Regions from separate parts of the Homo sapiens genome. Here all the other regions are linked to region 1. Evidence: fine-mapped expression QTL. A gene starts in region 1. Each other region holds a variant in brackets. All regions are shown on one strand. Distances are from middle to middle.

The links. PIP is the estimated chance that this variant, and not a neighbour inherited with it, causes the effect.
Region 2: its variant is fine-mapped to the expression of KRI1 in whole blood (TOPMed, PIP above 0.99).
Region 3: its variant is fine-mapped to the expression of KRI1 in transverse colon (GTEx, PIP 0.99).
Region 4: its variant is fine-mapped to the expression of KRI1 in whole blood (TOPMed, PIP above 0.99).

The regions. Positions count from the first base shown.
Region 1 is chr19:10,562,089-10,570,188 of GRCh38, forward strand. It overlaps KRI1 (KRI1 homolog), which reads right to left and starts at 3,922. Exons shown (of 19, transcript NM_023008.5): 1 at 3,818-3,922; 2 at 3,629-3,702; 3 at 2,841-2,946; 4 at 641-749. The coding sequence starts at 3,911. CDKN2D (cyclin dependent kinase inhibitor 2D) reads right to left here and starts at 6,891. Exons shown (of 2, transcript NM_001800.4): 1 at 6,425-6,891; 2 at 4,372-5,329. The coding sequence starts at 6,565. The coding sequence ends at 4,970. RefSeq lists enhancers at 3,027-3,594, 3,343-3,392, 3,595-4,162, 5,111-5,618, 6,058-6,227 and silencers at 3,663-4,192, 6,508-7,157.
Region 2 is chr19:10,590,356-10,598,455 of GRCh38, forward strand. It overlaps the pseudogene LSM2P1. Among named protein-coding and RNA genes, the nearest start is that of AP1M2, 7.1 kb to the left of the region's middle. RefSeq lists a silencer at 625-825 and enhancers at 2,238-2,762, 3,289-3,813, 5,288-5,477. The variant A/G (reference allele first, on the strand shown) is at 3,720.
Region 3 is chr19:10,534,439-10,542,538 of GRCh38, forward strand. No RefSeq gene overlaps it. Among named protein-coding and RNA genes, the nearest start is that of ATG4D, 5.4 kb to the right of the region's middle. RefSeq lists a silencer at 1,262-1,462. The variant C/A (reference allele first, on the strand shown) is at 4,835.
Region 4 is chr19:11,043,439-11,051,538 of GRCh38, forward strand. The region is part of intron 30 of SMARCA4 (SWI/SNF related BAF chromatin remodeling complex subunit ATPase 4); the gene reads left to right. Among named protein-coding and RNA genes, the nearest start is that of LDLR, 42 kb to the right of the region's middle. RefSeq lists enhancers at 2,912-2,961, 5,559-5,608, 5,699-5,988. The variant AT/A (reference allele first, on the strand shown) is at 4,145.

The sequences.
Region 1 (8,100 bases):
CTCAGGCTGGAGGGCAGTGGCATGATCTCGGAAAACTGCAACCTCCACCTCCCAGATTCAAGCGATTCTCCTGCCTCAGCCTCCCCACGTAGCTGGGACTACAGGCGCCCACCACCACATCTGGCTAATTTTTGTATTTTTAGTAGAGACGGGGTTTCACCATGTTGGCCAGGGTGGTCTCAAACTCTTGACCTCAGGTGATCTGCCCGCCTCAGCCTCCCAAGGTGCTGGTATTACAGGCATGAGCCACCATGCCCGGCCTTTTTTCTTTTTGAGACAGGGTCTTATTCTGTTGCCCAGGCTGGAGTGCAGTGGCCTGATCATAGCTCACTGCAGCCTCCATCTCCTGGCTCAATCCTCCTGCCTCAGCCTCCTGAGTAGCTGGGACTACAGGTACACATCATCATGCCCAGCTAATTTTTAATTTTTTTGTAGAGGCGGGGTATGTTGCCCAGCCTGGTCTCAAACTTCTGTCCTCAAGCGATCCTATTGCCTCAGCCTACCAAAGTGCTGGGATTATGGGCATGAGCCACCATGCCCGGCCCAGGCTGCCAGCTTTTTTCCCTCTCCTGCCCCTAAGACCCCCATAGACCTGACAGGGCTGGGAACCAGGGGGTGGGGATGTAGGCCTTCTCCATACCCTGCCTTCTCCAAGATAACCTTCCTCTCGTAGTCCTTCAGGTACATGGGCCGCACTTTCTTCTGCTTCTCCAAGGCTTCTGGGTCCTCCTCACTGTCTGATGACGATGCTGTTAACCCACCAAAGACACCTGCCATCACCCACAACCCCCTTCTTTGCCGTGGCAGAGAATCCCACAGGGCAGGGCCAGGGTTAGACAGAGGATTCAAATCCCAAATCCACCAATTCCCAGCTGTCCAAGAGTATTGTGCTTGTCACCATCTGGTGGGGTTGGGGTCATTCAGTCAGTAATTCCTGCTTTGATTATTATTATTGTTGTTATTATTTATTTACTTATTTTTTTTTGAGGTGGAGTCTCATTCTGTTGCCCAGGCTGGAGTGCAATGGCATGATCTCGGCTCACTGCAACCTCTGCCTCCCGGGTTCAAGCTGTTCTCATGTCTCAGCCTCCCAAGCAGCTGGGATTACAGGTGCCCACCACCGCGCCCGGCTAATTTTTATATTTTTAGTAGAGATGGGGTTTCTCCATGTTGGTCAGGTTGGTCTCGAACTCCTGACCTCAGGTGATTTGCCTGCATCGGCCTCCCAAAGTGCTGAGATTACAGGCGTGAGCCACCGCACCCGGCCATTATTATTATTTTTTTGAGACAGAGTCTCACTCCGTTGCCCAGTGCATGGCGTGACTTGGCTTACTGCAACCTCCGCCTCCCAGGTTCAAGCGATTCCCCTGCCTCAGCCTCCTGAGTAGCTGGGATTACGGGTGTGCACCACCACGCCCAGCTAATTTTTGTTATTTTTAGTAGAGATGGGGTTTCACCATGTTGGCCAGGCTGGTCTCGAACTCCTGACCTCAAGTGATCCTCCCGCCTCAACCTCCCAAAGTGCTAGGATTACAGGCATGAGCCACCATGCCCAGCCTGATTAATTATTATAATTAATTTTTTTGAGAGTTGGAGTCTTACTCTTGCTCAGGCTGGAGTGCAGTGTCAACATCCTAGCCCACAGCTCACTGCAGCCTTGAACTCATGGGCTTAAGCAATCCTCCCACTTCAGCCTCCCAAATACCTGGGACTATAAGCGCACACCAGCATGCTCAGCTGAGTTCTGAATCTTTTGTAGAGATGGGGTCTTGCCGCCAGGCACAGTGGCTCACGCCTGTAATCCTAGCACTTTGGGAGGCCAAGGCGGATGGATTACCTGAGGTCAGGAGTTCGAGACCAGCCTGGCTAACATGGTGAAACCCCATCTCTACTAAAAATAACAAAAAAATAGCTGGGCGTGGTGGCACGCACCTGTAATCCCAGCTACTCCGGAGGCTGAGGCAGGAGAATCGGTTGAACCGGGGAGGCGGAGGTTGCAGTGAGCCCAGATCATGCCATTGCACTCCAGCTTGGGCAACAAGAGCAAAACTCCGTCTCAAAAAAAAAAAAAGAAAAAAGAAAGAAAGGCTGGCTGGGCGCAGTGGCTCACGCCTGTAATCCCAGCACTTTGGGAGGCCAGGGTGGGCGGATCACCTGAAGTTGGGAGTTCGAGACCAGCCTGGCCAACATGGAGAAACCCTGTCTCTACTAAAAATCCCAAATTAGCTGGGCGTGGTGGCGCGTGCCTGTAATTCCAGCTACTCAGGAGGCTGAGGCAGGAGAATCGCTTGAACCTGGGAGACGGAGGTTGCAGTGAGCTGAGATCGTCCCATTGCAACCCAGCCTGGGCAACAAGAGTGAAACTCCATTTCAAAAAAAAAAAAAGAGAAATGGGGTCTTGCTATGTTGGCCAAACTGGTCTCAAACTCCTGGCCTCAATTGACCCTCCCACCTCAGCCTCCCAAAGTGCTGGGATTAGATGCTTGAACCACCTGCCCAGCCTGGTGGAGTTGGAATCATTCAGTCAGCAATTCCCACCTTGAATAGTGCCAAGGACACAGTCATTAACTCCACCACCAGGTAATAACCTAGGCTCTGCTAAGGACTTGTGACTTGTGAAGCAATTCATTCAATAGTCAAAACAGATGAACTGTGTAAACTGGGTAAATCCCAATCTATCCTTAAAACAGCCCTGAGGGGAGATGCTACCGTTAGATATACTTTACAGACAGGAAAAGAGGCTCAGAGAAGTCAAGTCACTTCTCTGAATCCACAGTCAGGAAAGGACCCCGGATTCTGCTCCAGAGGAAGGAGAGGTTTAGACAGGAGTGGCCCCGGACCTGTTCTGTTATAGAAGGTGGCATCTTTCTGATAAATGCGGGGGTCCTTCTTCTTCAACAAGGAGAGCGTTTTGTAAAAGTCCCGCTCCTGCTGGGGATCAAATTCCTAGGGCAGGAAAAGGGTTGGGGATAGATTTCAGAAGGGAGATAATAAGAGCCCTGGCGCCAGCAGGTGAGCTCAGCGTAGGGATTAGGATGGAGGGGGGTGGATCTGGCTGGGGAGGTCAAACAGGTGGTCAAACAGCAGGAGGGAGAGGGGCCCTCTTGGGGTGGGCAGGGGCAGGCCACAGGTAGGTACAGGATATGGGTAGAGGAAGGTGAGGGGCAAGGAGAAGGTAATTCCTGGGGAAGACAAAGACTTGACAAGGGGCAGGTGGGCTGAGGGCACAAGAGAGACAGCGGGGAGGGGCTGGGCCAGGCCGCACAGTGGGGCCAGGATCAGGGCTGATGTGAGAAGTTGGGCGCCCCACGTGGCGCAAGGAGTACACTAAAAAATGGCTAGACTCTTGAGGATGAAAGAGGAAAGGGGGGGTTCTTGGGGGACAGAGTCGCCCCACACATCAGAGTGGGCAGGTGGGGATCGTGGCAGGGGAGAGAAAATAACGGGGATTTGGCTCCCCTGGGGAGAGGGGGGGCACTGTCTGTCCCTCATGGGATGGGGAGCGGAGGATGGGACGCTCCCGCAGGGCGCTCTGGGGTTGGGGGTTCCCCCCCGTCTACATCGGGGTCGGGGTGCAGAGGGGGGCTTGGACGCCTCCGCACGTCCAGGACGGGGCGGGGACGCGCACCACGCGCTCGTCGCTTGAGTCCGACTCGGAGCTGGAGTCGCTGCTGCTGTCTCGGTCCCCGTAGCGATCCTTCACTGCGGGACACAGACGGGATGCCCCCCCCCAGGTCAGCCGGCGGGGCCACTCGACTCCCCACTTCCCAACCGGCCGGCGCGCGCAGGCTCCCGCGCGCATGCGCCCCGCACTCACGCCGCTGCAGTTCCTCGCGCTCCCGGTAGCGGTTGTACCGCGCGGCAAACGCCGCGTTCACCCGCAGCTGCGACGACCCGCGCGGTTCCGGCATGGCGGTTCTGTGGCCCATTGCGCACGCGCATTGAGGAAGCCCTGGACGGGGCGGGGCCGCCCTCAGTCCCGCCCGCATCCACTTGTAAACGAGGCGTACCGCTGCTAACCCCGCCCCTGGCTTTTCCGGGATCCCTTTCGCCTCATCACCGCAGTCACCGCCCACGGCTACGCCCCTGCGGGGAAGGCCGCGGCCACCGCCCACCCGCCCCACCCCCTGTGCTCCGGGCACCCAGCTGACATCTGGGGGCCCTTTCTCCACTCGCGGTTTCCTGCTTCCCTTCCGTTCCGACAGCGAAAACCGCTGCCCCACCCAGCTCACTCACCCTGGCGCCCTGGGAATTACTATTCTCTCCCCTCACCCACCACATCCACGATCCGCGACCCCCGTCCTCATCCCCATCAACATCCGGGATGTGTAACTCTCCATCCCAGACTCAAAAATCAGAAGCCACCCGTGCTGTGATCATGCACAAGTCTTAATTTAATGGGTAAAAACATTAAATTATTACAACATTTTTTCCAATAAAGCATAATAAATAGAATCCATTTCTTTTAAAACGCTGTACAAGAGACTGGAAAACAAGCTTCCAACAGAATATGAATAACTCATAACTCATTCTACCTTCTTATTGATTTGGGACGCTCCCCCCACCCCCCATGCCTGAAGCAACGTGCACACTTCAGGTCTCTGAGCACAGCCGGCCAAGGCCACCAGCTTCTAGGCTCCCTGGAGGTCATGACTTCACTCTTAAATGCTCTGCCCTTGGGTCTCGTCTGAGGCCCCAGCAGCCTGAGGCGCAGAAGAAACTGAACCGTTTAGGTGGCTGTGGCCTGCAGGAGCCCTTCTCTGTCCAACACACCAAAAGGAGTGAGAAAAACAAATGAGAAACGTCCCCCAAACACTCACACCCCCAAAACCAACACCTATAAGCCACAAACTGTGCTCCTCCCCTACTGCAGCAGTGGGCAGGAGAAACAAGAAGAGAAAGTGTTTCTTCCCCTCTCTTCTGATACATAACCCCACGGGGTTCTCTTGCTGGAGAGGGTGACCCCAGATCACAGCGGGGCCACCATGTGGCCCTGCAGGATGTCCACGAGGTCCTGAGCCCCTCTCTGCAGTGCCAGCTCCAAGGGTGTGAGACCCCTGGCGTCCCTGCGATGGAGATCAGATTCAGCTGCCAGAAAGCTGACCACAGCAGTGTGACCCTCTTGAACTGCCAGATGGATTGGAAGTGCCCCGGTGCCATCAGGCACGTTGACATCAGCCCCGTGCTCCACTAGGACCTTCAGGGTGTCCAGGAATCCAGTGCGGGCTGCGTCATGGACTGGACTGGTACCGGAGGTGTCCTGGACATTGGGGCTGGCACCTTGCTTCAGCAGCTCCAGGGCGATGGCGGTGCTGCCAAACATCATGACCTGTGTGAGGGACAGAGGATCAGGAGGTCCTCAAGGGAGGAGGTTCCACAAAAGGGGTCACTGGAAAGAGAAGGGTCATCCAGAAAGAGGCATCTCCCAGAAACAGGAAATGCTAGAGGAGGGGTCCTCTAGTGAACGGAGAAGCTGCATAAGCCCCCAGGAAAGTTCTTCTGGGAATAGGGACCCCCCCCAAAAGCTGGTCACTCCCTTAAGAATGAGACCCCCCAACCCAGAGAACAGCCCCCCATGGAAACTTTCAAGGAACCTAAGACTCTCCCCCAAGGGACCAAAGACGCCCCCAGATATGGGCAATCACCAGGAAACAGAAAATCCCCTCCAGGAAATGGGCCCCCAGAGATGGAGAACTACCCCCAAAGAATTGATAGTCCTCATAAGGGAAAAAAGATGTCAAAGGAAAGCGAACCCCTTCTCCAGGAAATAGCCTCCTCCTACATAATGGTGATGTCACCTCAGAGTACCTGAGAGCTCCTTTCAAGAAGCGGGATTCCAAAAGTAATAATAAAAGAGAAACGAGACTTCCCTGTAAAATGTCTCCCAGGGAATATAGGGATGTCTTGCAATCTGACATTGTTCCTCCATTGGGGCCCCCATACTATATCAAGGATCCGCATAACCTTTAGGAATGAAGACCCCACCCCCAAGTAACCAGATTTGTCTCAGAGAGCCCCCTACAAAATGAGGAACCCCTAGAGACAGGACCTCTCCTTCCAGAGATCGGATCTCCCCATAGAAGCCCCAAGAAACGTGAGCCGTCCCCATGGAAACGGCATCCAAAGGAGCTGAACCCGCACCCACGGAATAAGAACCTCCCCAGGGAAAGTGAATCCCCGGCACTCAGAGAACCAGGAATCCTCCCAGAGAAGATGCTAAAAAGCTCTCCCCTCCCCCCACAACCTAGCCTCACCCACCACCCACCTTCGAAGGGGGACTGTGGGGGAACAATGAAAGCCTAGAGAAGAAGGACCGGTTCCCAGTGGGTCACCACCAGGGCCAGGAGACCAGAGAGGAGCTCTGGGGTCTCGATCCTCATCCCGCTTAGCCGCCCCGCCCCAACCTGGACCGGCCCGGCCTCACCTGCAGCGCCGTCTTGCCGAAGCGGTTGAGGGCGTCGGGATGCACCAGCTCCCGGTGCAGAAGGCGGCGCACCTCCTGCACGTCGCCCCGGGCCGCCGCCCCACTCAGCCGGTCGCCGGCGCGAACCTCCTCCAGCAGCATGTCGACACTGGCGGCCTGCAAAGCCCCCCGCCCCGCCCCAGCCCGGCGCTGTCAGCGCGGAGCAGCCGGCGGGCGCTGGCCCGAACAGCCCTCCCGGGGCGCGGCCGCGGTGCACCCGGCTGCGCTGCTCTCCCGTCCCGGCTCCCCAGCCCGAGACCCCGGCCCTCCCGGCGGGCTCCTCCCCCTGTCAGCCGGAGGACGGCGAGGGGCTGGGAGCCGGGCCCAACCCTCGGCCGCCCGCGGGGCCCTGCCCGGCGCCCGCCCCTTGGGGGCCGGGTCTCCCCCTAACTCACCCTCCCTCCTCCTCGCCGGGCGGGGTCTGCTCTGAGCCTGCGCCGCCGCCGCCGCTGAGGCAGCCGCCAGGGGGCGGAGCCAACGTGCTCCCGGCCACGCCCCGAACGCAACTGATTTGTTTTCTTACAAACTCGCTACTGTGTAGCGGCACCGCGTTGCCCGGCGCGCGACCTTACGGCGTTCCGCCCACAGGGCCTGCATAACCAGTGGCTGCGCGTCGCCGGGGAAACTTCGGGCTCGGCGTGAAACGCGTCGCTCCTGATTGGTCAGAGTGTGGCAACCGGTGGACCGCCGGCAATGGCGGGGTTTTCGGTTTTCAAATGAACCCGGCAGGCGGGAAAGAAGGCTGGTTTAACTGACCCAGGGAGAAAGGTCAGGGGCAGGGTCGCGCGGGCTGCTCTGGGACCTCGGCGCCTCCTGAGGGAAGGGAGGCAGGGCTGGAGCCACCCAATCCGAGGTTCCACTACTAATAGACATTCATTGGCCCTTACTACGAGCTGGGCGCTTTATTTCATTCATTTATTCATTCACTGTGTGCAGGGAGCGTCCTGGGAGCTGGACGCGCACATTCAAACAACCAAATAATATTAGATAGTGTCAAGCACCGTGAAGAAAGGGAAACGGAGAGACGGAGTGGATGAGGAAGGGATCACCCTGCCGGGCTCAGACTGAGCCAGCAGGAAAGGAGCCTGCAGCTGCCACGTGGGAAGGCCTGAGAGGACATAGTCGCAGCCAGACAGGGACTCAGAGGTCTTCGTTCAAATATTTACTTAGCACCTCCTAGAGGGGCCCGAGTGGAGAGCACGCCAGTCGGCCCCTGCTGCAGGGACACCTATGGTCTGGGGCCAGAGACAATAGTTAATTTTTATTTATATATGTATTTATTTTTGAGTCAGGGTCTCACTCCTGTCACCCGGGCCGGCGTGCAGTGGCGCGATCACAGCTCACTGCAGCCTCGACTTCCCGGGCTCAAGTGATCCTCCTGCCTCAGCCTCCCGAGTAGCTGGGACTACAGGGCGCACCACCACGCCCGGCTAATTTGTGTTTTTAGTAGATATGAGGTTTCACTATGTTGCCCAGGCTGGTGTTTTTTGTTTGTTATTTGTGTTTGGCTTTTAAATACAGATTTTTTTTTTTATGTTGGGGTTCTTGCTTTGTTGCCCAGGCTGGTCCCGAATTCCTGGGCTCAACGGATCCTTCTGCCTTGGCCTCCAAAAGTGCTGGGATTACAGGCGTGAGCT
Region 2 (8,100 bases), 28 kb after region 1:
AACCATGTCGCTGAGAAGGAGGAGGATGAAGATGATGATCTGGATGATGATGTAGCAGTTGAGAGCACAGATGCTGGGTTTGATTTTTGATACCACCACACACTGGCTATAAGGCATGGGCTGGTGAATGCACCTGCTGTGCCTCAGTCTCCTCTTATGTTAAATGGGTATAACAGCCATGGTGCCCTCTCCTGCAGTTGCATAGCCAAATACCTGGCATGGCCCCTGGCTCCATGCATGTTTCGTGCACACCAGCTGCTGCAGACCCAGATTCCACCCCTGGACTTTCCTTTTTTTTTTCTTTTGAAATGGAGTCTCAGTCTGTCGCCAGGCTGGAGTGCAGTGGTGCGATCTCAGCTCACTGCAACCTCTGTCTCCTGGGTTCAAGCGATTCTCCTGCCTCAGCCTCCCAAGTAGCTGGGACTACAGGTGCACTCCACCATGCCCAGCTAATTTTTGTATTTTTATTAGAGATGGGGTTTCACCATGTTGACCAGGATGCTGTCGAACTCTTGACCTCGTGATCCGCCCACCTCAGCCTCCCAAAGTGCGGTAGTTTTGAGGACAGGGCAGAAGGAAAGGGAAAGTAAACCTCAGCCTTGCTTAGAACCACCTTGCTTGGCTGAGGGAGGGAGATGTCCTGCAGGGCCTGCAGGGAACAAGACTCAGCCTACCCAGACCTCACTTGTCCTTTCCCCAAACCCTGCCCAGCCCTTTATCAGCCCCTGTAGGTGGGGACTTAGAGAACAGCAGCTATCAGGATCATCCACTTGCCTCTCCACCTGAAATTAACATCAACATTGACAGCAGCACTGCACTTTAATTAAAACATTATCATCTGGGCCAGGAGCAATGTTTCATGCCTGTATCCCAGCACTTTGGGAGGCCAAGGTGGACAGAGCACCTGAGGCCAGGAGTTTGAGACCAGCCTGGCCAACATGGCGAAACCCTGTCTCCACTAAAAATACAAAAATTAGCCGGGCGTGGTGACGCATGCCTGTAATTCCAGCTACTTGGGAGGCTGAGGCAGAAGAATCACTTGAACTGGGGAGGCGGAGGTTATAGTGAGCCGAGATGGCACCACTGCACTCCAGCCTGGGTGACAGAGTGAGACTCCGTCTCAAGAAAATAAATAAATAGAATGAAAAATAAAAAGTTATCATCTGGCACAAGTCTCCTTCGTGCCATCTTATAAAGGTAGAAGCAGGGACACAGAGAAGTGAAGGCACCTGCCCAAGCCCACGGCCCCAGAGCCAGGAGGCAGTTGACCCAGAATTCGAATCTGAGTCCCGGGATTTAAGAATCTGGTCCCAGCCTGCTTCCGCCTGCTTTGCTATATTGCTGGATGCAAATATTACTATTAGTAACACTAACTCTGGCTTAAATGGTGCTCACCATAAGTGAGGGTGGCCCTAAATGTCGCCCATGCAGGAATCCTCAAGACAGCCCCTTGAATTACAGAAGCCTATTTTTTTTTTTTATTTATTTGAGACAAGGACTTGCTTTGTCGCCCAGGCTGCGGTGCAGTGGTGCAAACACGGCTCACTGCAGCCTCAACCTTCTGAACTCAAGAGATCCTCTCACCTAGGCCTCTCCAGTAGCTGGGACTACAGGTGAGCAACACCACTCCCAGCTAATTTTTAAATTTTTTTTTTTTTTTTTTTTGAGACAGAGTCTTGCTCTGTCGCCCAGGCTGGAGTGCAGTGGCGCAATCTCGGCTCACTGCAACTTCCGCCTCACAGGTTCACACCCTTCTCCTGCCTCAGCCTCCGGAGTAGCTGGGACTACAGGCATCCGCCATCAAGCCCGGCTAATTTTTTTGTATTTTTAGTAGAGACGGGGTTTCACCGTGTTAGCCAAGATGGTCTCGATCTCCTGACCTCGTGATCCGCACACCTCAGCCTCTCAAAGTGCTGGGATTACAGGCGTGAGCCACCGTGCCTGCCCAATTTTTAAATTTTTTGTAGAGATGGGGTCTCGCTACGTTGCTCAAGCTGGTCTTGAGCTTCTGGCCTCAAGCTGTCCTCCCACCTCAGCCTTCCAAAACACTGAGATTACAGACACGAGTCACCTCCCCCAACTCTATTATCTTCATTTGACAGATAGGGAAACTGAGGCCTTGAGAGAGTAAGTGATTTGTACAATGTCATCCAGTCAGAAGAAGCAGAGCTGGGATTTGAGCTCTGGAAAGCACAAGGTTTTTTTGTTTTGTTTTGTTTTTTGTTTTGAGACAGAGTCTCGCTCTGTCGCCCAGGCTGGAGTGGAGTGGTGTGATCTTGACTCACTGCAACCTCCGCCTCACGGGTTCGAGTGATTCTTCTGTCTCAGCTTCCCAAGTAGCTGGGACCACAGGTTTGTGCCACTATGCCTGGCTAATTTTTGTATTTTTAGTAGAGATGGGGGTTCGCCATTTTGGCCAGGACGGTCTCAAACTCCTGACCTTGTGATCCGCCCGCATTGCACGTTGGCCTCCCAAAGTGCTGGGATTACAGGTTTGAGCCACTGCACCCGGACTTTTTTGTTTTTTGAGATGGAATTTCACTCTTGTTGCCCAGGCTGGAGGGCAATGGTGCAACCTTGGCTCACCATACCCTCCGCCTCCCAGGTTCAAGTGATTCTCCTGCCTCAGCCTCCCAAGTAGCTGGGATTACAGGCATGCACCACCATGCCTGGCTAATTTTGTATTTTTAGTACAGACAAGGTTTCTCCATGTTGGTCAGGCTGGTCTCAAACTCCCGACCTCAGGTGATCCACCCACCTCAGCCTCCCAAAGTGCTGGGATTACAGGGGTGAGCCATCGCACCTGGCCCTGATTATTATTATTATTATTATTATTATTTTTGAGGCAGGGTCTCTGTCACCCAGGCTGGAGTGCAGTGGTGTGATCTCAGCTCACTGCAACCTCCACCTCCCCAGGTTCAAGCAATCAAGCAATTCTCCCACCCCAGCCTCCTGCACAGCTGGGACCACAGGTGCGTGACCACCACATCCAGCTAATTTTTATACTTTTTGGTACAGACAGGTTTCACAATGTCGCCCAGGCTGGTCTCCAACTTGTGGACTTAAGTGGTCCACCCGCCTCGGCCTCCCACAGTGCTGGGATTATAGGCGTGAGCCATCTCGCCCAGCCTAAAGCCCAAGACTTTATGTTGCTTCTGCCCAAAGGAGGGGGGTGGTCCTTCATGCTCCCAGCAACTGCCTGCTGAGAAGGTCACCTAGGGGGATGCAGTCACTGCTAGGCCCTCACCCCAGCCTAGACATTGCTGAACCTCAAAATAACTCGTCTCCTGGCAGCCGGGCGTGGTGGCTCACGCCTGTAATCCTAGCACTTCGGGAGGCTGAGGTGGGTGGATCACCTGAGGTCAGGAGTTTGAGACCAGCCTGGCCAAAATGGTGAAACCCTGTCTGGACTAAAAATACAGAATTAGCCGGGGGTGGTAGCACATGCCTGTAATCCCACCTACTCAGGAGACTGAGGCAGGAGAATCACTTGAAACTGGGAGGCAGAGGTTGCAGTGAGCCAAGATTGCGCCATTGCACTCCAGCCTGGGGCAATAGAGTGAGACTCTGTCTCAAAAACAACAACAACAACAAAATGAAGAACTCATCTCCTGGGGCCCTGAGATGTTTTCAGGCAGTAAGCAGAACCCGAAAGCCTGGGCCCAGTGCCCTGGAATCTGAAACTCCAGGCTTGTTTGGCATGAAAAATTCATGAGCCC[A/G]AAAGCTTACTTGGGGTCAGAGAACAGAGCAGCTCTGTGTGCTGGCTCTGCCTGCCCCGCCTGCCCCACCTCAGTGGCGGCCTCCCCCATCCCCCTGAGGCTGTGGCCTTGTCCTAGTTCCTTCTGGATGCCTGGAGCCTCCTCCAGCCTCTCCCAGGGACCACGCCTCTAGGCCCTGTCCACAATCCCTTCTCCACACCACTAAAGAGATCTCTCTGAAACTCACAATTATTTTTTGACTCTCACTCTCACATCCTCTATGGCCCCCCATTGCCCTCCAACCACCCCCACCTGGCACAGTCAGACACCTGCTGACCTCTGCCACAGGACACCACCTGAACCTGCTGTCCCAGACACCCTAACTGCCCGAATTTCAGTTCCTCTCCTGCTGTCTCAAGCCATCCTCCCACCTCAGCCTCCCAAGTAGCTGAGACTATAGACACGTGCCACCACAGCTGGCCACCTTAGCCATTTTGAAGTGCACAGTTCGGTGGCATTAAGCACATTAATGGCCATGCAACCGTCACCACCATCCATCTCCAGAACTTTCTCATCTTCCCAAAGGAAAACTTCTCCCTATGAAACACTCCTTCTCCCTCTCCCAACCCCTGGCACCCACTCTTCTTCTTCTTCTTCTTCTCCTTTTCCTTCTCCTCCTCCTCCTTCTTCTTCTTCTTTTCTTTTTTTTATTTATTTTGAGATGGAGTCTCACCGTCACCGAGGCTTGAGTGCAGTGGCACAATCTCGGCTCACTGCAGCCTCCATCTCCTAGGTTCAAGCAGTTCTCCTGCCTCAGCCTCCTGAGTAGCTGGGATTACAGGCGCCCCCCACCACGCCCAGCTAATTTTATTTTTTTATATTTTATTTATTCATTTACTTTTATTATTTTATTATTATTTTTTTTTGAGACAGAGTCTCGCTCTGTTGCCCAGGCTGGAGTGCAGTGGCACGATCTCAGCTCCCTGCAAGCTCTGCCTCCCGGGTTCATGCCATTCTCCTGCCTCAGCCTCCCGAGTAGCTGGGACTACAGGTGCCTGCCACCACACCCGGCTAATTTTTGTATTTTTAGTAGAGGCAGGGTTTCGCCATATTGGCCAGGCTGGTCTCTTGGCCAAGCTGGTCTGGAACTCCTGACCTGGAGATGTGCCTGCCTCAGCCTCCCAAAGTGCTGGGATTATAGGCGTGAGCCGCCGCGCCCAGCTTTTTTTTCTTTTTTTTTTGAGACGGATTCTCACTTTGTCGCCCAGGGGCTGGAGTGCAGTGGCGCAATCTCAGCTAATTGCAACCTCCTCCTTCTCCTAGTTCAAGTGATTCTCCTGCCTCAGCCTCCCAAGTAGCTGGGATTACAGGCATCTGCCACCACGCTGGGCTAATTTTTGTATTTTTGGTAGAGACTGGGTTTCGCCATGTTGACTAGGCTGGTCTCAAACTCCTGACCTCAAGTGATCCACCCATCTCAGCCTCCCAATGTGCTGGGATTACAAGTGTAAGCCACCATGCCCAGCTACTCAGGAGTCTGAGGTGGGAGGATCACTGGAGCCCAGAAGATTGAGGCTGCAGTGAGCTATGGTTGCACCACTGCACTCCAGCCTCGGTGACAAAGCAAGAACCTATCTTAAGAAAATACTGTGCTGAGCCAGTTCCTGAGAAAACAAAATAGAAAACAAAACTAAAGAAAAGGCAAAAGTTCCTCCCAGCAGAGATGTGAGAGAAAAAGAAAAAAAAAGTCCCCTGTGACACCCCCATACCCCAATCTTCGTCCCTCTCATAACCACTGGCTGATTCAGATCTTTTTCAGCTGGGTTACATGCAGGGGGGTGTGTGTGTGTGTTTGTGTGTGTGTGTGTGTGTGTGTGTGTGTGTGCGCGTGTTGCCCTCTTTCTCTCTCTTTCTCCCATACCATATAAGACTATACAACTTGTGGATGGGCACAGTGGCTCTCACCTGTAATCCCAGAACTTTGGGAGGCAGAGGCGGGTGGGGCACTTGAGGCCAAGAGTTCAAGAGCAGCCTGGGCAACATGGCAAAAAATCTGTCTCTACTAAAAATATAAAAACTGGCCAGGTGTGGTGGCTCACGCCTGTAATCCCTGCACTTTGGAGGCTAAGGCAGGTGAATCACCTGAGGTCAGGAGTTTGAGACAAGCCTGGCCAACATGATAAAATCCTGTCTCTACTAAAAATACAAAAAATTAGCCAGGTATGCTGGCGGACACCTGTAATCCCAGCTACTCGGGAGGCTGAGGCAGGAGAATTGCTTGAACCCAGGAGGCAGAGGTTGCAGTGAGCCGAGATCATGCCACTGCACTCGAGCCTGGGTGACAGAACAAGAATCTGTCTCAAAAACAAAACAAAACAAAACAAACAAGCAACAACAACTATATATATATATATATATATGTATATAGACTAAGCTGGGCATGGTGGTGCGTACCTGAAATCCCAGCTACTCCAGAGGCTGAGGCACACAAATCACTTGAACCCAAGAGAAGGAGGTTTCAGTGAGCTGAGCTCGCACCACTGCACTCCAGCCTGGGCGACAGAGAGAGACTCTGTCTTAAATAAAAAAAAAAAAATACAACTTGCTATTATCACTCAACAATATGACCTGGACGCTACTCCGGAAAGCATGTGGTTGAAGGGGAAGGAAGTGTGTCTTGGGTGTAAAGTCGGACTCCCTGGGTTCAGATCCTTGCAGAGCCACGGGCTCATTATGTTACTGTGGGTAAATTACTTCACCTCTCTGGGTCACTTTCCCCAATTGGAAAATGATTATAATGATTTAATACAGAGTGCTTGGGCCAGACGCGGTGTCTCACGCCTGTAATCCCAGCACTTTGGGAGGCCGAGGCGGTGGATCATGAGGTCAGGAGATTGACACCATCATGGCTAAGACAGTGAAACCCGTTCTTCACTAAAAATACAAAAAACTAGCTGAGCGTGGTGGTGGGTGCTGTAATCCCAGCTACTCAGAAGGCTGAGGCAGGAGAATTGCTTGAACCCGGGAGGCAGATGGTGCAGTGAGCTGAGATCACGCCACTGCACTCCAGCTTGGCGACAGAGTGAGACTCCATCTCAAAAACTAAAACAAACAACAACAACTATATACACACACACACACACACATACACACACAGAGAGCACTTTACTGGGTGAGCCAAGATCGCGCCACTGCCCTCCAGCAGCCTTGGTTCAAAAAAAAAAGGTGCTTGGCCAGCATGGTGGCTCATGCTTGTAATCCCAGCACTTCAAGAGGCCAAGATGGGCAGATCGATTGAGGCTAATGAGACCTGGTCTCTATTTCAAAAAAAAGAAAAAGAGTTAAAAAAATATATAAAGCATTTAATACCTTGTCTGACACTGACTAAGCTTTCTATAAACATTCACTCTTTCTTTCCTTTTTTTTTTTTTTGAGACCGAGTCTCGTTCTGTCACCCAGGCTGGTGTGCAATGGTGCACTCTTGGATCACTGCAACCTCTGACTCCCAGGTTCAAGTGATTCTCCTGCTTCAGCCTCCCAAGTAGCTGGGATTACATGCATGTGCCACCACACTCGGCTAATTTTGTATTTTTAGTAAAGACGGGATTTCTCCATGTTGGTCGGGCTGGTCTCGAACTCCCGACCTCAGGTGATCCGCCCGCCTCGGCCTCCCAAAGTGCTGGGATTACAGGTGAGAGCCACTGCGTCTGGCCTTAGAGACAGATTTTCATCGTGTTGTCCAGGCTAATCTTGAACTCCTGTCCTCAAGTGACCCTCCTGCCTCCCAGAGTGCTGGGATCACAGATGTGAGCCACCACTCCTGGCTGTAAACAGTCACTCTTATTATAATCTGCAGGACCACCACCTTTTTTCTTAAACTATTTTAAAAATTCTCATTTTGAAATGTAACTTTTTTATTTATTATGTATACAAACACACATATATATTTGCATCATAAATGTTATTCCCAATATGGGACAGATTCCTTTCAACCCCCAGGTGAATCACATGGTACCCTGGAAAGACCTAGGAAGCCCTCCCTCCCACCATCTCCAGGGAGGTAGTGAGAACGGCAGGTGCTGGGGACTGGGAAGGCTTTGGAGTTTCCCAGCCTACCTCTTCTCCCTTTCTCAACAAAGGATACCTGTTCCCTATTATTCCCCTTATCCACTCTTCCCTTTTTTAAAAAAAACCCACAAAACCATCATTAGTAAAAAAACAAACAAAACCCCTTCAAGTATTGGGAGTTAGGGGTCCTGGGCTGGGACTTGGAGTTACAGGTCACCAAGGAAGAGGGAAGGGAAGAGAAGGAGGGGCTGTCACTTACTACTGCTGGCTTTCTTCCTTGCTGCATGCTATGGCAACTGTGTGTCGACCTCCTTTGCTGGCAACTGCACGTATG
Region 3 (8,100 bases), 28 kb before region 1:
GTGGCAGTGTGCACCTGTAGTCCCAGCTACTTGGGAGGCTGAGGCAAGAGAATTACTTGAACCCAGGAGGCAGAGGTTGCAGTGAGCGGAGAACACACCACTGCACTCCAGCCTGGACAACAGAGTGAGATTCCGTCTCAAAAAATAAAAATAAAAAATAAAATAAATTAGCTGGGTGTGGTGGCGCATGACTATAATCCCAGCTACTGGGGGAGGCTGAGGCAGGAGAATCGGGAGAATCGCTTGAACCGGGAGGCGGAGATTGCAGTGAGCCGAGATCGCAGCACTGCACTCCAGCCTGGGTGGCAGAGCAAGTCTCCGCCTCAAAATAAATGAATAAAATAAAATAGTCTAGTTCCTGTACATCTTCTCCAACACTCATTAAGGTCAGTGTTTCTCATTTTAGAGGTTCTAGAGGATTTTGGGGGGTATCTGATTTCTATGTTATTTTGAATTTTCCCGATGGCTAATGATGTTCAGATTCTTTTTTTTTTTTTCCCACAGAACCATTCAAGTGTAACTTTTTTTTTCTTTTTATAGAGACGGAGTTTCACTATGTTGCGCAGGCTGGTCTTCAACTCCTGGCCTCAAGCAATCCTCCCACCTCAGCCTCCCAAAGTGCTGGGATTACATGTGTGAGCTACCATGCCAGTCTTTTTTTTTTTCTTTATAGAGACCAGTTCTCACTCTGTCACCCAGGCTGGAGTTAGTGGCACGATCTCAGCTCGTCACAACCTCCGGCTCCTGGGCTGAAGCTATCTTCCCACCTCAGCCTCACAAGTAGCTAAGACCAGAGACATGTGCCATCAAGCCTGCCTATTTTTTTTTTTTTTTTTTGTAGAGACAGGGTCTCCCCATGTTGCCCAGGTTGGTCTCAAACTTGAACTCCTGGGCTCAAGCAATCCTCCTGCCTCAGCATCGCAAGTGCTGGGATTACAGTCATGAGCCACCGTGCCTGGCCATAATGGATATTCTTTTTTTTGAGACAGGGTCTGTCTCTCTCTGGTAACCAGGCTGGAGTGGAGTGCAGTGGCGCACTCACAGCTCACTGCAGCCTCCACCTCCTGGGCTCAATGCTCCCACCTCAGCCTCTGAAGTAGCTGGGACTACAGATGAGTGCTACCCTGCCCAGCTTTTTTTTTTTTTTTTTTTTTTTTTTTTTTGTAGAGACCATGGTCTCACTATGTTGCCCAGGCTGGTCTCAATCTCCTTGGCTCAAGTGATCCTCCTGCCCTGGCCTTCCAAAGTCCTGGGATTACAAGTGTGAGACACTGCACTCGGCTGAGAGTTTTGTTCTTACAGCCGACTTACAGATTCACAAGCAATGACACAGCTGATTAGGAATGATGGCAAGTGTGATCAGGTGGACCTGAGAACACACACAGGGCGACTTGCCCAAGCTGGAGGTCAGGACAGGCCTCTGAGCTGTGGGTGGGCAAGCTGAGGCCTGCTGGAGAAGAGGGAGAAACCGACTCCATTCATTTCCAGGCTTGCAGTAATTAATTCGCACAAACTAGGTGGTTTAAAACAGACGTGTATTCTCTCACAGCTCTGGAAGCTAGAAGTCCAAAGTCAAGGTTGGTGGTAGAGCTATGCCCTGTCTGAAGGCTCTAGAGGGGAATTCATAGCTGGGTCCTTCCTAGCTTCCCATGGTCTTTTTGTTTGTTTGTTTGTTTGTTTGTTTTTGAGATGGAGTTTCGCTCTTGTTGCCCATGCTGGAGTGCGGTGGCACAATCTTGGCTCACTGCAACCTCCACCTCCCAGGTTCAAGCGATTCTCCTGCCTCAGCCTCCTTAGTGCAGGTGCCTGCCACCACGCTCAGCTAATTTTTGTATTTTTAGTGGAGACAGGGTTTTGCCGTGTTGGCCAGGCTGGTCTCGAACTCCTGGCCTCAAGTGATCCGCCCACCTCAGCCTGCCAAAGTACTGGGATTACAGGCGTGAGCCACTGTGCCCCACCCATTTGACAAAAATTTTTTAAAATTAGCCAGGCGTGGTGGTGTGCTCCTGTAGTCCCAGCTACTCGGGAGGCTGAGGCAGGAGGACAGCTTGATTCTTGTAGTTGGAGGCTACAGTGAGCTATGATTACACCACTGCACTCCTGGGCCATAGAGCAAGATCGAGTCTCTAAAAATTAATCAATCAATCTGCAAAGACTCTATTTCCAAATAAAGGCACATTCACAGATACCCAGGGTTAAGACTTCCACATGAATATTTGGAGGACAGAGAATTCAACCCACAATCCAGGCTGACCTGTGACAGTGACAGTTATTTGGCATCCAAAGTGTGGCTACGAGTTCAATCTTGGAAAGCCTGGGACAGCCCAGCCAGGGGGTTCCTGAGGTGTAGGTGCGTGGTGACTGGCTTTTTTAAGGGCACGAATCTTTTGGGAGCAGAAGGAGGAAGACAGGAGGAAGGGAAGAAATTGTTGAGAGACCTGGGTCAGTCTCACCAGACTGAGTGCAGAAGCCGAAGACCCCTGGCCTCTACACTGGGCTCAAAGTGGTCAACTCCACGGCCAGGGGCAATGGCTCACACCTGTAATCCTAGCACTTTGGGAGGCTGAGGCAGGTGGATCACATGAGGTTAGGAGTTTGAGACCAGCCTGGCCAACGTGGTGAAACACTGTCTCTACTAAAAATACAAAAATTAGCCGGGCATGGTGGCACGCGCCTGTAATCCCAGCTACTAGGGAGGCTGAGGCAGGAGAATCGCTTGAACCCAGGAGGCGGAGGTTGCAATGAGCCGAGATTATGCCACTGCAATCCAGCCTGGGCAACAAGACGGAAACTCCAACTCAAAAAAAAAAAAAAGGTGGTCAACTCCAACAGAATGTAGTGGTGTGTGCCCATGGTCCCCCCTACTCGGGAGGTTGAGGCAGGATCGTTTGAACCCAGGAGGTCAAGGCTGCAGTGAGTACTGATTGCACTACTGCACTCCAGCCTGGGTGACAGAGACCTTGTCTCTATTTCATTACATGTTGAGATGATAACATTTTGGATGCGTTGGGATAAATAAAAAGAATTATTAAAATTGATATCACCTGTTTCTTTTTACTTTTAAAAAATGTGGCTAATAGAATATTGAAAATTATATTTCATGTTATTTTTCTACTGGATTGTACTTCTCCAATTTTGGGTTGGTTTTTTTTTTTTGGTTTGTTTGTTTTTGTTTTGTTTTGTTTTTTTAAACGGAGTCTCAATCCCGTCGCCCAGGCTGGACTGCAGTGGAGCAATCTCAGCTCATTGCAACCTCCACCTCCCGGGCTCAAGCGATTCTACTGCCTTAGCCCCCCGAATAGCTGGAACTACAGGTGCCTGCCACTATACCCAGCTAATTTATGTATTTTTAATAGAGACAGGGTTTCATCACACTGTCTAGGCTGGTCTCGAATTCCTGACCTCAAGTGATCTGCCCGCCTCGGCCTCCCAAAGTGCTAGGATTACAGGTGTGAGCCACAGCCGCCGGATTCTTTTCCAGATTTTTTTGGCATGATGGAATTTGTTTATAAAAATACCGTTCTAAGCTGAGTGGGGTGGTGTGTACCTGTATTCCCAGCTACTCGGGAAGCTGAAGTCGGAGGATTCTTTGAGCTCAGGAGTTGGAGACCAGCTAGCTAGGGCAACACAGCAAGACCCTGTCTCAAAAAAAAAAAAAAAACATTAAAATTAAAAAACAGCTAGGTCCTTCTAGCTGTTTGTGGATTTGAGGGGTCAGACATAGCAGCTAAGAGACCAGGGACTAGGATGATGGATGCTGGACCCAGGAGGGCAGTGGTGGGAATAAGAATAACAAGAACAGTCATAATTCACACTGACGTGGTGGAGACCATGTGCCTGGCACTGTTCAAAGCATTGTGCATATTCACTTCATCCTTCTCCCAAACACTAGAAGGGAGGCAGTATCACTACCCCATTTGGCAGATAAAGAAACTAAGACAGTGGCCGGGCACCGTGACTCACCCCTGTAATCCTAACACTTTGAGAGGCTGAGGCAGGAGGATCACTTGTGCCCAGGGATTCAAGGCTGCAGGAAGCAATGATTGCACCATCACACTTCAGCCTGGGCAACAGAGTGAGACCCCGTCTCTCTCTCTTTTTTTTTTTTTCCAATGAATCAATTTTATTTTCAGACTTTCATAGTTAGTCTAATTAAATCAATTTAAAGTTCTCACTTTCTTGACATGCTTAAGAAGTATAGTGTAGTGGGTGAAATCATAGACGCCGGAGACAGGACTTCCTGGGTTAGAATTCCAGATCAGCAACTTACTAGAATGAAACCTTGGCCACATTATGTCATCTCTTTGTGTCTCCATTTGCTCATTGCTTGGCGATAGGTGATTGTCTCACCGCTCAGCGATAGGCGATGGTCTCACCGCTCGGCAATTGGCGAAGGTCCCATCTGGGTCGCCAAAATGTGTCCGGAATTGGTGGGTTCTTGGTCTCACTGACTTCAAGAATGAAGCCGCGGACCCTCGCGGTGAGTGTTACAGTTCTTAAAGGTGGCGTGTCCAGAGTTTGTTCCTTCTGGTGTTCAGATGTGTTCGGAGTTTCTTCCTTCTGGTGGGTTCGTGGTCTCGCTGGCTCGGGAGTGAAGCTACAGACCTTTGCGGTGAGTGTTACAGCTCTTAAAGGCAGTGTGGACCCAAAGAGTGAGCAGTAGCAAGATTTATTGCAAAGAGCGAAAGAACAAAGCTTCCACAGTGTGGAAGGGGACCCGAGCGAGTTGCCCAACCCCATCTCTCAAAGAAAAAGGAACTGAGGCAGAGAGTGGCGAGGTCCCTTATCTGAGCCATCTGGCTGCACAGTCTGTACTGAGTGCAGAATCCAAAGA[C/A]CCCTGGGCCTACACTGGGCTCAAAGTGGTCAACTCCAATGGAATGCGGTTGTGTGTGCCCACGGTGCCAGCTACTCAGGAGGCTCAGGCAGGATCACTTGAGCCCAGGAGGTCAAGGCTGCCATGAGTCCTGATTGAACCACTGAACTCCAGCCTGGGTGACAGAGTGAGACTCTGTCTCGAAAATAATACACTTGGGCACAGTGGTTCATGCCTGTAATCCCAGCACTTTGAGAGGCTGAGGAGGGCAGATACCCTGAGGTCAGGCGTTCAAGACTAGCCTGGCCGACGTGGCGAAACCTGTCTCTACTAAAAATACAAAAAATTAGCTGGGTGTGGTGGCGCGTGCCTGTAATCCCAGCTACTCGGGAGGCTGAGGCAGGAGAATCACTTGAATCCATGAGGTCGAGGTTGCAGTGGGCCAAGATCGCGCCACTGTACTCCAGCCTGGGCAACAGAGTGAGACTCTGTCTCAAAAAAAAAAAAAAAGGGAATTGGGGTTGGACGCAATCTTGAGGGTGGGGCCCTCACACCATTCTCCTGCCTCAGTCTCCTGAGTAGCTGGGACTACAGGCGCCCGCCACCATACCTGGCTAATTTTTTGTGTTTCACTGTGTTAGCCAGGATGGTCTTTATCTCCTGACCTCGTGATCTGCCTGCCTCGGCCTCCCAAAGTGCTGGGATTACAGGCATGAGCCACCGAGCCCGGCTGAGACCAGGATGTCAAGGCTTCAGTGAGCCAAGATCATGATGCCACTGCACTCCAGTACTGGCAACAGAGTGAGACTGTGAGAAAAAAAAAAAAAAAAGAAAGGAAGGCAGGTGAGAGGATATAAGATAAGAAGAGAATCTCAGCTGGGCGCGGTGGCTCACGCCTGTAATCCCAGCACTTTGGGAGGCCAAGGCAGGCAGATCACCTGAGGTCGGGAGTTCGAGACCAGCCTGAGCAACATGGAGAAACCCTGTCTCTACCAAAAATACAAAAAATTAGCCAGGTGTGGTGGTGGGCGCCTGTAATCCCAGTTACTCGGGAGGCTGAGGCAGGAGAATCGCTTGAACCCGGGAGGCAGAGGTTGTGGTGAGCCGAGATTGCCATTGCACTCCAGCCTGGGCAAAAACTCCATCTAAAACAAAAAAACAAAACAAAACAAAAAATAGAAGAGAATCCCACCAAGAACCATGCTGGCACCCTGATCTGGGACTTTCTAGCCTCTAGAACTGTGAGAAGCAAAGGTGTGTTGTTTTAGCCCCCAAGGCTATGGTATTTGTCACAGCAGCCCAAGGGGATAAAGACAGTAAGGTTGTGATAACTACTCCCATGCGGCGGGGAGGGGGAAAAAGGCAGGGAAGAGAAGGAGACCAAGGATGGAGATGGGGGAGAATTTTGAGAGTGGTAATCTTCGTGTAGGGGTGATATTTGAATAAAGACTTGCGGCCGGGCACAGTGTCTCACGTCTGTAATCCCAGTACTTTGGGAGGCTGAGGTGGGTGGATTACTTGAGGTCAGGAGTTCGAGACCAGCCTGGCCAACATGGTGAAACCCCATTTCTACTAAAAATATAAAAATTAGCTGGGTGTGGTGGCACATGCCTGTAATCCCAGCTACTCAGGAGGCAGGAGGATCACTGGTGCCCAGAAGGTCGTGGTTGCAGTGAGTTATGATCGTGCCACTGCACTCCAGCCTGGGCAACAAAGTGAGACCCTGCCAAAAAAAAAAAAAAAGACCTGAAGGAGGTGACGGAGAGCCATGGTAAGAAACGTGGTCTGGGCAGAGGGAACAGCAAGTGCAAAGACTCTGAGGTGGCATTGGCTCTGTTGAGTTTGAGAAAGGGTGCACTTGGCTGGTTGCAGTGGCTCAAGCCTGTAATCCCAGCACTTTGGGAGGCCCAGGCGGGCAGATCACCTGAGGTCAGGAGTTCAAGACCAGCCTGGTCAACATGGTGAAACTCTGTCTCTACTAAAAATATAAAATTAGCCGGGTGTGGTGGCTCACACCTGTAATCCCAGCTACTCCAGAGGCTGAGGCAGGAGAATTGCTTGAACCTGGGAGGCGGAGGTTGCAGTGAGCTGAGATTGTGCCAGTGCACTCCAGCCTGGGCTACAGAGCAAGACTCTGTCTCAAAAAAATAAAATAAAATAAATCAATAAATTAATAAATTAATGAAAGAGAAAGGGGTCAATTGTGATTGAAGGCGACTGGGAGGAGAGGGGAAAAAAGGAAAGTCAGGGAGGTGACTGCCCCTTTTGTGCCTTCTCCTTCTTGGATCACACCCTCATTCAAATCTTTCTTACCTCCTTCAGAGAGCTGAGGACAGAGCCCCGGGGCTGGCCACTAGAGGCCACCCTCTCCATGGCTCACAGGGTCACTGCATTGTCATCATGCAGTTGGCTCTCACTGAGCCCCAACTGTTCCTCAAATACCACTCTAAGCACTTTACATTGGTAAGTTCAGCTCATTCCCATACATCTTTATGAGTTAGACACATTTAAAACTTTTTCCTGGCTGGGTGCAATCGCTCATGCCTGTAATCCCAGCACTTTGGGAGGCCGAGGCTGGCGGATCACCTCAGTCAGGAGTTCGAGACCAGCCTGGCCAACGTGGTGGAATCCTATCTCTACTAAAAATACAAAAATTAGCTGGGCGTGGTGGTGTGCGCCCGTAATCCCAGCTACTCAGGAGGCTGAGGCAGCAGAATTGCTTGAACCTGAGAGGTGGTGGTTGCAGTGAGCCAAGATCGCACTAGTGCACTCCAGCCTGGGCAACAAGAGCGAAACTCCATCTCAAAATAAATACATAAATAAATGAAAATAAAATAAAAAATAAAAATTGTCCCTGGCCAGGTGCAGTGGCTCATGTCTGTCATCCTAGAACTTTGGGAGGCTGAGGCTAATCGTTTCAGCCCAGGAGTTCAAGACTAGCCTGAGCAACACTGGGAGACTCTATCTCTACAGAAAAATTTTTAAAAATTAGCCAGGGGTGGCCAGGCACGGTGGCCCACGCCTGTAATCCCAGCACTTTGGGAGGCCGAGGTGGGCGGATCACGAGGTCAGGAGATCGAGACCATCCTGGCTAACACGATGAAACCTCGTCTCTACTAAAAATACAAAAAATCAGCCAGGCGTGGTGGCGGGCGCCTGTAGTCCCAGCTACTCGGGAGGCTGAGGCAAGAGAATGGTGTGAACCTGGGAGACAGAGCTTGCAGTGAGTCGAGATCGCGCCATTGCACTCCAACCTGGGCAACAGAACGAGACTCCGTCTCAAAAAA
Region 4 (8,100 bases), 480 kb after region 1:
AACTCCAAGGCTAAGTCCTCAAAGAGGAAAGCAAGTGGAGGACTTAAGTTACTTAAAGTGCGGGATACAGCTGCGGGCAGTAGCACATGCCTGGGGTCCCCACTACTTGGGAGGCTGAGGTGGGAGGATCACTTGAGCACAGCAGGTCCAGGCTACAGTGAGCCATGATCACACAGCTGCACTCCATCCTGGGTGATGGAATGAGACCCTGTATCTTAAAAAAATGAAATAAATACAGAATACTTATTTAAAACATGGGCCAGGTATAGTGGCTCGTGTAATCCCAGCACTTTGGGAGGCTGAGGTGGGCGGATCACTTGAAGTTAGGAGTTTGAGACCAGTCTGGCCAACATGGCAAAACCCCATCTCTACAAAAAATACAAAAATAGAAATTAAACTGGCATGGTGATGCGTGCTTGAGCTCCCAGCTCGGGAGGCTGGGCACGAGAATCGCTTGAACCCAGAAGGCAGAGGGTGCAGTGAGCCAAGATTGCACCACTGCACTCCAGCCTGGGTGACAGAGTGAGACAATACCTGAAAAACAAAAAACAAAAACAAAAAAAGGGAATTCGCAGAAATCTAATGACAATGACAGACCCTCCCCATGTTTTATTTCTAATGATAATCTTGTGAGGGAAACTTAACATTACCAACCTAAAGAAGACCCTTGAAGCGCAGTGGGGAAAGCACGGGTGTCTCCATCACACTGGTCTCCTGGGTATCCACGTAGAGAGGATGAGCCTCGACCACCCCCACACACGCACACACCATGCACTTGGATCCACGTGACATGGACTGTGGATGTAAGAACGTGAAAGGTAAAACAAAATTCTAGAAGAAAGCACGGGAGAAAATCTTCATGAGTAGGCATCGATTTCTTCCACGGGAGCCAAAAGCCACTAATCACAAACAATTGAGAAATTAGACCTCACTGAAATTAATAACATCTGTTTATTAATGGACACGCTGATGGAGACAGTGAAAACTCCTCATAGATGAGGAAAAGACAACACAATTTAAAGCTGGACAAGAGCCGGGAACAGACGCCTCCTTACACAGGACATCCCAGGACTAATCAATGTGGGGAAAGGTGCTCACGTCATTGCATTAGCATCACAACTTCAAGAAAATGCTCGTTAAAACCAGAGTGACTTGCACCAGCACCCGCCCCAGAACGGCCGAATGCCCATCAGTGCTGGCAAGTCTGAAGCAGTCTGGCCTCACACCCTGCGTGTAGGAGTATGCAGCTCTTTGGCAATCTCTTCTGTTTTGCTTTGTTTGTTTTTAACCATCGAACTGCAGAAGATAATATTTTCTGAGGCTCAGCCTGTACATACCCTCTGACCCAGCAGCCTGCAGCCCTCGTTCTACCCAGGAGAGCTGAGTGCATCTGTCCACACCGACAGACGTGTCCATAGCCACTTTGGTCATAATCTCCCAAAACAAGAATCAGCCCAGTGTCCATCTACAGGGGCATGGATCAGTGGAGGCCTAATCGTACAGGGCCCCAAACAGCTGTGAAAACAGACATAGTACTGCTACCTGGAAGAAGCTTACATTTTGTTGAGTGAAAGAAGCCAGACACTAAAAAGGGCATACTGGCCGGGCACGGTGGCTCACGCCTGTAATCCCAGCACTTTGGGAGGCCGAGGCGGGCGGATCACGAGGTCAGGAGATTGAGACCATCCTGGCTAACATGGTGAAACACCGTCTCTACTAAAAATACAAAAAATTAGCCGGGTGTGGTGGTGGGCGCCTGTAGTCCCAGCTACTCGGGAGGCTGAGGCGGGAGAATGGCATGAACCCAGGAGGCGGAGCTTGCAGTGAGCCGAGACCGCGCCACGGCACTCCAGCCTGGGCGACAGAGCGGGACTCCGTCTAAAAAAAAAAAGAGGGCCTACTGTGTGCCTCCAGTTCTGTGAGGGTCAGAAGCTGATCCACAGTAATGGCTGCCAAGCAGTGCTTACCTTGAGAGAGGGAATAGCAGGAAAGCCACACGACGAGCCTTCTAGGATACTGGGGATATTCTCTCTATAGATCTGGATGTGTATATGATGTGTACATTCACCAAGGTGTACACATGAGATATGTACACTTCTCTGTATTCCATTACACCTTGGTTTTTGAAAAGACAGAAACAGCATGCTCAGCTTATTAAGAACCTGAATATTTTCAGACAAAAAGTATGTCTAGTGTTAGTCCACTTTTTTTTTTTTTTAGTTTTAGACTCACAGAGCCCTCTTAGGGTCATATTTAGTTGTATATCATCTGACAAAAGAGGGAATGGCTCACCCAGCTGCTACAGTCAGTCTTGTAGCCTTTGTAAGATTTGATGATAAATCATACAATAAATTAAAACTTTCGGCTGGGCACAGTGGCTCACGCCCATAATCCCAGCACTTTGGGAGGCCGAGGCGGAGGATCACTTGAGCCCAGGAGTTCAGATGAGCCTGGCCAACATAGTGAGACTCTGTCTCTATTTAAAAAAAAGAAGAAAAAAAAAGTCTGGGTGTGGTGGCTCACGCCTGTAATCCCAGCACTTTGGGAGGCTGAGGCGAGCGGATCACAAGGCCAGGAGATCAAGACCATGCTGGCTAACACAGTGAAACCCCGTCTCTACTAAAAATACAAAAAATTAGCCAGGCGTGGTGGCGGGCGCCTGTAGTCCCAGATACTCGAGAGGCTGAGGCAGGAGAATGGCGTGAACCCGGGAGGCAGAGCTTGCAGTGAGCCGAGATTGTGCCACTGCACTCCAGCCTGGGCGACAGAGCGAGACTCCGTCTCAAAAAAAAAAAAAAAACCCCAAATCTTAACTCTTACTGCTAAGTGACTGCTTTATCGAAACTGTTCTGTTTCGGGACATTTGATTCTGGTAGAGATTTTGAGACCTGCTTTGAAGAGGACACCAACATTTCAGTCACACAGCAATGCTCCTGTCTTACCTGGGATCCATGTGGGAGGATGCCTCAGTGGGGGATTTGATCTGTGTTTTCAATTTAACCTCACATCTTACTGGAATGGATGGATTCACAGACCTGGGGGTCGCCCATTGGACTGGGAGTAACTACGTTGGAATTACAAGTAGGACAACAAAGATGACTATTAAAGAAAGCCTCCTGAGTGCTGGAAGCACAGCAGGCGTGGGTCTGTCCACTCACTGTAATGTGATTTGCACAGGAAAACATCACATAGGGCACATCAACTCAGGAAAGATAGTCGTTGAAAAGCTACCTCAGCTGGGCGTAGTGGTCACGCCTGTAATCCCAGAACTTTGTAAGGCTGTGAGGCTTGTGGATCCCTTGAGACCAAGAGTACGAGACCAACCTGAGCAAAACAGGGAGACCCCGCCTATGCAAAAAATACAAAAATTAGCCAGGCGTGGTGGTGCACTCCTGTTGACTCAGCTATTCAGGAAGCTGAGGCAGAAGGACCACAAGAAGTCAAGGCCGCAGTGGGGTATAATCACATCACTGCACTCCACCATGGGTGACAGAGGTGAGACCCTGTTGCAAAAAAAAAAAAAAAAAAAGCAAAAGAAAAGCTGCCTCCATTTAGCAATAATTTCAAACATGATGTTTGGGTACAAAATTGGTGTACTTAATGGATATTTCTGATATTCTTAACTAAATTTGAAGCTGTGAGGGAAGACAAACTCAGGGTCCACAGGGTGGGAAAAGTCCACAAGATCACCCTCAAGTGCCGTCATTCTCTAGGACCCCGAGAGCCCTAGCGGTTGTTACGCTTGCAGTTATGATTTATTACAGTGCAAGGCTACAGATTAAAATCAACCAAGGCAAGAGATGTATGGGGCCTCTTGGGGGCCAAGGTGGGCGGATCACTTGAGGTGATCTGGACGGTTCCAGACACAGGGCTTTCCTTTGTCTCCTCCCTGTGGAGTTGAAGACAGCGCTGATGTTCCCGGTGACGTTGACACAGAGCACTGCCAACCAGAGAAGCCTCCGTGTCCAGAGGTTTTTTTTTTTTTTTGGAGATGCAGTCTCACTCTGTCACTCAGGCTGGAGTGCAGTGGCACTATCTTGGCTCACTGTAACCTCTGCCTCCTGGGTTGAAGTGATTCTTCTGCCTCAGCCTCCTGAGCAACTGGGATTACAGGCTCGCGCCACCACGCCTGGCTAATTTTTGT[AT/A]TTTTTAGTAGAGATGGGGTTTCACCATGTTGGCCAGGCTGGTCTCGAACTCCCGACCTTAAGTGATCCGCCCGCCTCAGCCTCCCGAAGTGTTGGGATTACAGGCATGAGCCACCGTACCCACCCTGTGTCCAGCATTTTTACTGGGACTTGGTCACAAAGACACAGCTGGCTACCCACGTGGCTGACCTCCATCTCCAGCCCCTCTGCAGGTGAGCAGAAACTACATAGCCCAAAGCCCCAACCTAGGACTGGTCCCAGACCCCACGTAAACAAAGACAGCCATTAGGTGTGACATTCTAAGGACTCAGAGATCACCTCCCAGGAGCCCCAGGCAAAAGCCAGACCTCATTTGGGGCGAAGTTACATTCTTTTTTATTATTATTATTATTTGCCCATCATTGTCTAGAAGTTACATTCTGTATGACACATCTGTCAGATCCCTGGAAGCTTCCTCGCCACCGACTGCATGGCAGGTGGTGCTCATGTCACTCGGCCCTTCCTTGGCCCCACACAGCTGCACCAGGCTGAGAAGAGCTTGAATGGAATAAAGTCAGACACAGCTAACAGCTCACTTTTTTGTCTCCAACTTTGAATTGCTCCTTTCCAAGAAAAGAAAAAAAACTTCTTTTTGTTTAATTGGATTTTTTTTTTTATTTATTTTTTGAGGCAGAGTCTCACTCTGTCACCCAGGCTGGAGTGCCATGGCACAATCTCGGCTCCCTGCAACCTCCACCTTCCAGGTTGAAGTGATTCTCCTGCCTCAGCCTCCCAAGTAGCTGGGATTACAGGTGCACACCACCATCATGCCTGGCCGGAATTTTTGTTTTTTAGTTGGCTCTCCAGAACCCTCTAAGTAGTTCAGCTCTGCAATTGAGTTAAATGTGAAGCCTGAAAAGAGACTGGCATCTGTGTAGACCTGAGTTCTAACAATTCAAAGAGTGAACACGGGACGTTGTCCTCTGGATTCGGTGTCAGGAGCCTGCCTCGCCGAGCTGGAGAGTGTGCCCATGACTGCAGGTGGGAGCCACATGGTCCGTCTAGGTGGCGACACCTGAGGACAGAAGTGGTTTAGCTGGGCACCCGCTGCTGTGTTGGGGCCAGACCCTTTTGGAGAGGCAGGGACGCCCTTCCTGTCAGGTGGAATCTTTTCAAATATTGCTTTTGATCGTTGGAGATACTTGCAGCCCCCTAGTTCGTGTTTTATTCTGGCAGAATTGTGTTTGACGTGACCTCTGTGTTGACCTCATCATACGTGTACAGTTGTCTTGCCTGGGAATCTTATACTCTGTTCTTCTGCACTCAGATTCACAGCCATGAGGCCGCTCCTCCCAAGGCCCTGGAGTGTGGCACTGCCAGCTGTCACAGCCACGGTCCTTTACATTGTATACACAGAGTGCAGTGACATGCCCCTCCTGCTCAGGGGCCACAGTAGGAACAGGCTGGAGTGTTCTGTGGTACCATGCCGGCAGTGCTGGCTTCTGCTGTCCAGGGGCTTGTGGTGGCTCCAGTGGGAAGGGCCACGTAAGCAGAACAGGAAGTGTGAGCAGTGTCCACTGGGAGGAGAGGGACAAGTGTCCCAGGCAGAGAGGACACAGTGCATGCAGAGGCTGGAGGGAGGCTAGGGGCTTGAGTGGGGCTGCGCCAGCACCAGGGGCCTCACAGGGGCCCTGGGCCACACACCTGCCCTTAGCCAAGGGCGTTTCTCCTTGGTGGTTTGAAATCTCAAACCACATTGAGGAACCTGCCAGAAATCGAAACCAGAATTAAGAAATTAAGTTACATGTAGGAGATTTTACTTTAAAATCAGAACATGCAGAAACGTTCTCTGTGGCTTCGGGTCAGGTTCGGGCTTGTGGGGCTGTACACTGCCAGTTGATACCTTCTTCCCTGGGTTCTGTGTTTTTTTTTTTTTTTTTGAGACAGAGTCTTGCTCTGTAGCCCAGGCTGGAGTGCAGTGGCACAGTCTTGGCTCACTGCAACCTCTGCCTCCCTCCCTGGGTTCTTTATAGCAGTCAGCAGCTGGTGGCTGAGGCATTTGGGGCACTGTGTCCAAGTGTCAAGGCCGCATGTGTGTCAGGGGGCACACCCTTGGTGTGCTTGGTAAGGGCTCAGAGAAGGGCATCTGCTGGTCCATGTGGGCTCAGCCAGCAGCCTGCTAAAGACCACCCCGCCAGCCACCAGCCTGCCTGCGACAGTGATAGGGCAGAGATGCTGCTACAATAAAGACCATGCGGGCCAGGCGCAGGCGCTCACATCTGTAATCCCAGCACTTTGGGAGGCCAAGCCGGGCTGATCACTTGAGCTCAGAAGTTTGAGAACAGCTTGGCCAACGTGGCAAAAACCCCGTCTCTATTAAAATACAAAAATTAGCCAGGCATGGTGGCACTCGCCTGTAATCCCAGCTACTTGGGAGGCTGAGGCAGGAGAATCGCTTGAACCCAGGAGGAGGTTTCGGTGAGCCAAGATTGCACCACTGCACTCCAGCCTGGGTGACAGTGAGACTACGTCTCAAAAAAAAAGACTGTGCTAGACGGTGGTGTTGAACTTGAACTTGATGCTTGTGCTGAGGTCAGGAGACACGTGCACAGCTTCAGGGCTAGAGGGGCACAATGGCTGCAGACTATGCTCGGGCAGCTCGGAAAGACGGTGACGGGTCCAGGCTGCCGCAGCTAAGCCTCACAAGAGCTCTGGCCCCACCAGGCGGGCCCTCTGGGTTCCATTCCCACTCCCCACTGCCTGGAGGCAGCAGCCCTGTGGTTACTGTAGGAGGGACCTGAATGCAGTGAAGATCTGCACTCCACACCTGTCTCTGTGCCTCAGTCTCCACGTCTGCAGCACAGGGGCCTGACTGAAATAACGTGGCCAGGCACACAGCCCAGACGCCAGCACTGTGTGCACTGTGGGAGGGGACGATGGTCCCTAGCCCAGGGCCTGAGCTGCTGCCTTGCCAATTCGTGGTGACAGCTTTGGCCTGGGTCTGGCAGGGGCTGGCTGCTACTGCTGAAGGCCTGTCTGCACTGTTTCCCTGCCTTTCCACAAGCACTGTCCCTCCTGGCTCTTCAGAGTTGAGTGGTTATACCTTGTGCAAGAAAAACAATGAAACAGATTGTCTGAATGTTTCAGACCTGCCTGAAACATTCTGCAGGAGAGGTCATCCCAAGGCTTGAAAGTGTTTGTCACACTCCTTCAAGCCCCCAGGGCAGGGCCCCTGAGGGAAGGGTGCAGGTGGAGGGTGGGCAGGAGTGGGAGCCATTCCTTGGGGACAGGGGGGCTCCTCAGGGCTGTCTGGCCCTTGGCCTGTGGTTCCAGGTCTATGGTCTGCTTGGCACATAGCCTGGACCCTGGTGCTGTGCAGGCACTGGCTGGATGAGGGCACCGAGCAGATGAGCCCCAGGCATGCCCACTTATGGGCATAGGCTGGGTGCAGGGCACTGGGTCCAACATAACCATGGCAGAGGGCTCAGGGGGCCTAAAAGTCATGGATGGAGTTGCCCACGCAGCCTGCGGTCAGGTTCCCTGTGGAGCCGTGCTGGGGTTCTGCGCCTGCCCCAGGATTTGCTGGAAGAAGCTCCCCCTCCTCTGTTTGTGAGTCGGGCCCTACCCCCAAGTCTCCCCCTCAGTGATAGAGACCTTTACATAACACAAATAAACAAGGCAACTGGTTTAGAAGAATGAGTCTGAAAACTAGAATGGCGTGTTTAAGGAAAGCTTAGGACAGGACAATTAGAGACAGAGGTGCAGGTGTGTGGAGTTGGCAGCAGGAGGCCTGGGGGAGCCGCTCGTGCCTTTCCCTCCTGCCCTGGCCTCCCTTGGAACTCGGAGCAGCCCCCTGCCTTGAGGAGGCCCTTCCTTTCAGTGAGCCTGTGCCGCAGTCGTCCGAGGGAACACAGTGGGGACATATTTCCTTTTTTTTTTTTTTTTTTGAGACAGAGTCTCACTCTGTCGCCAGGCT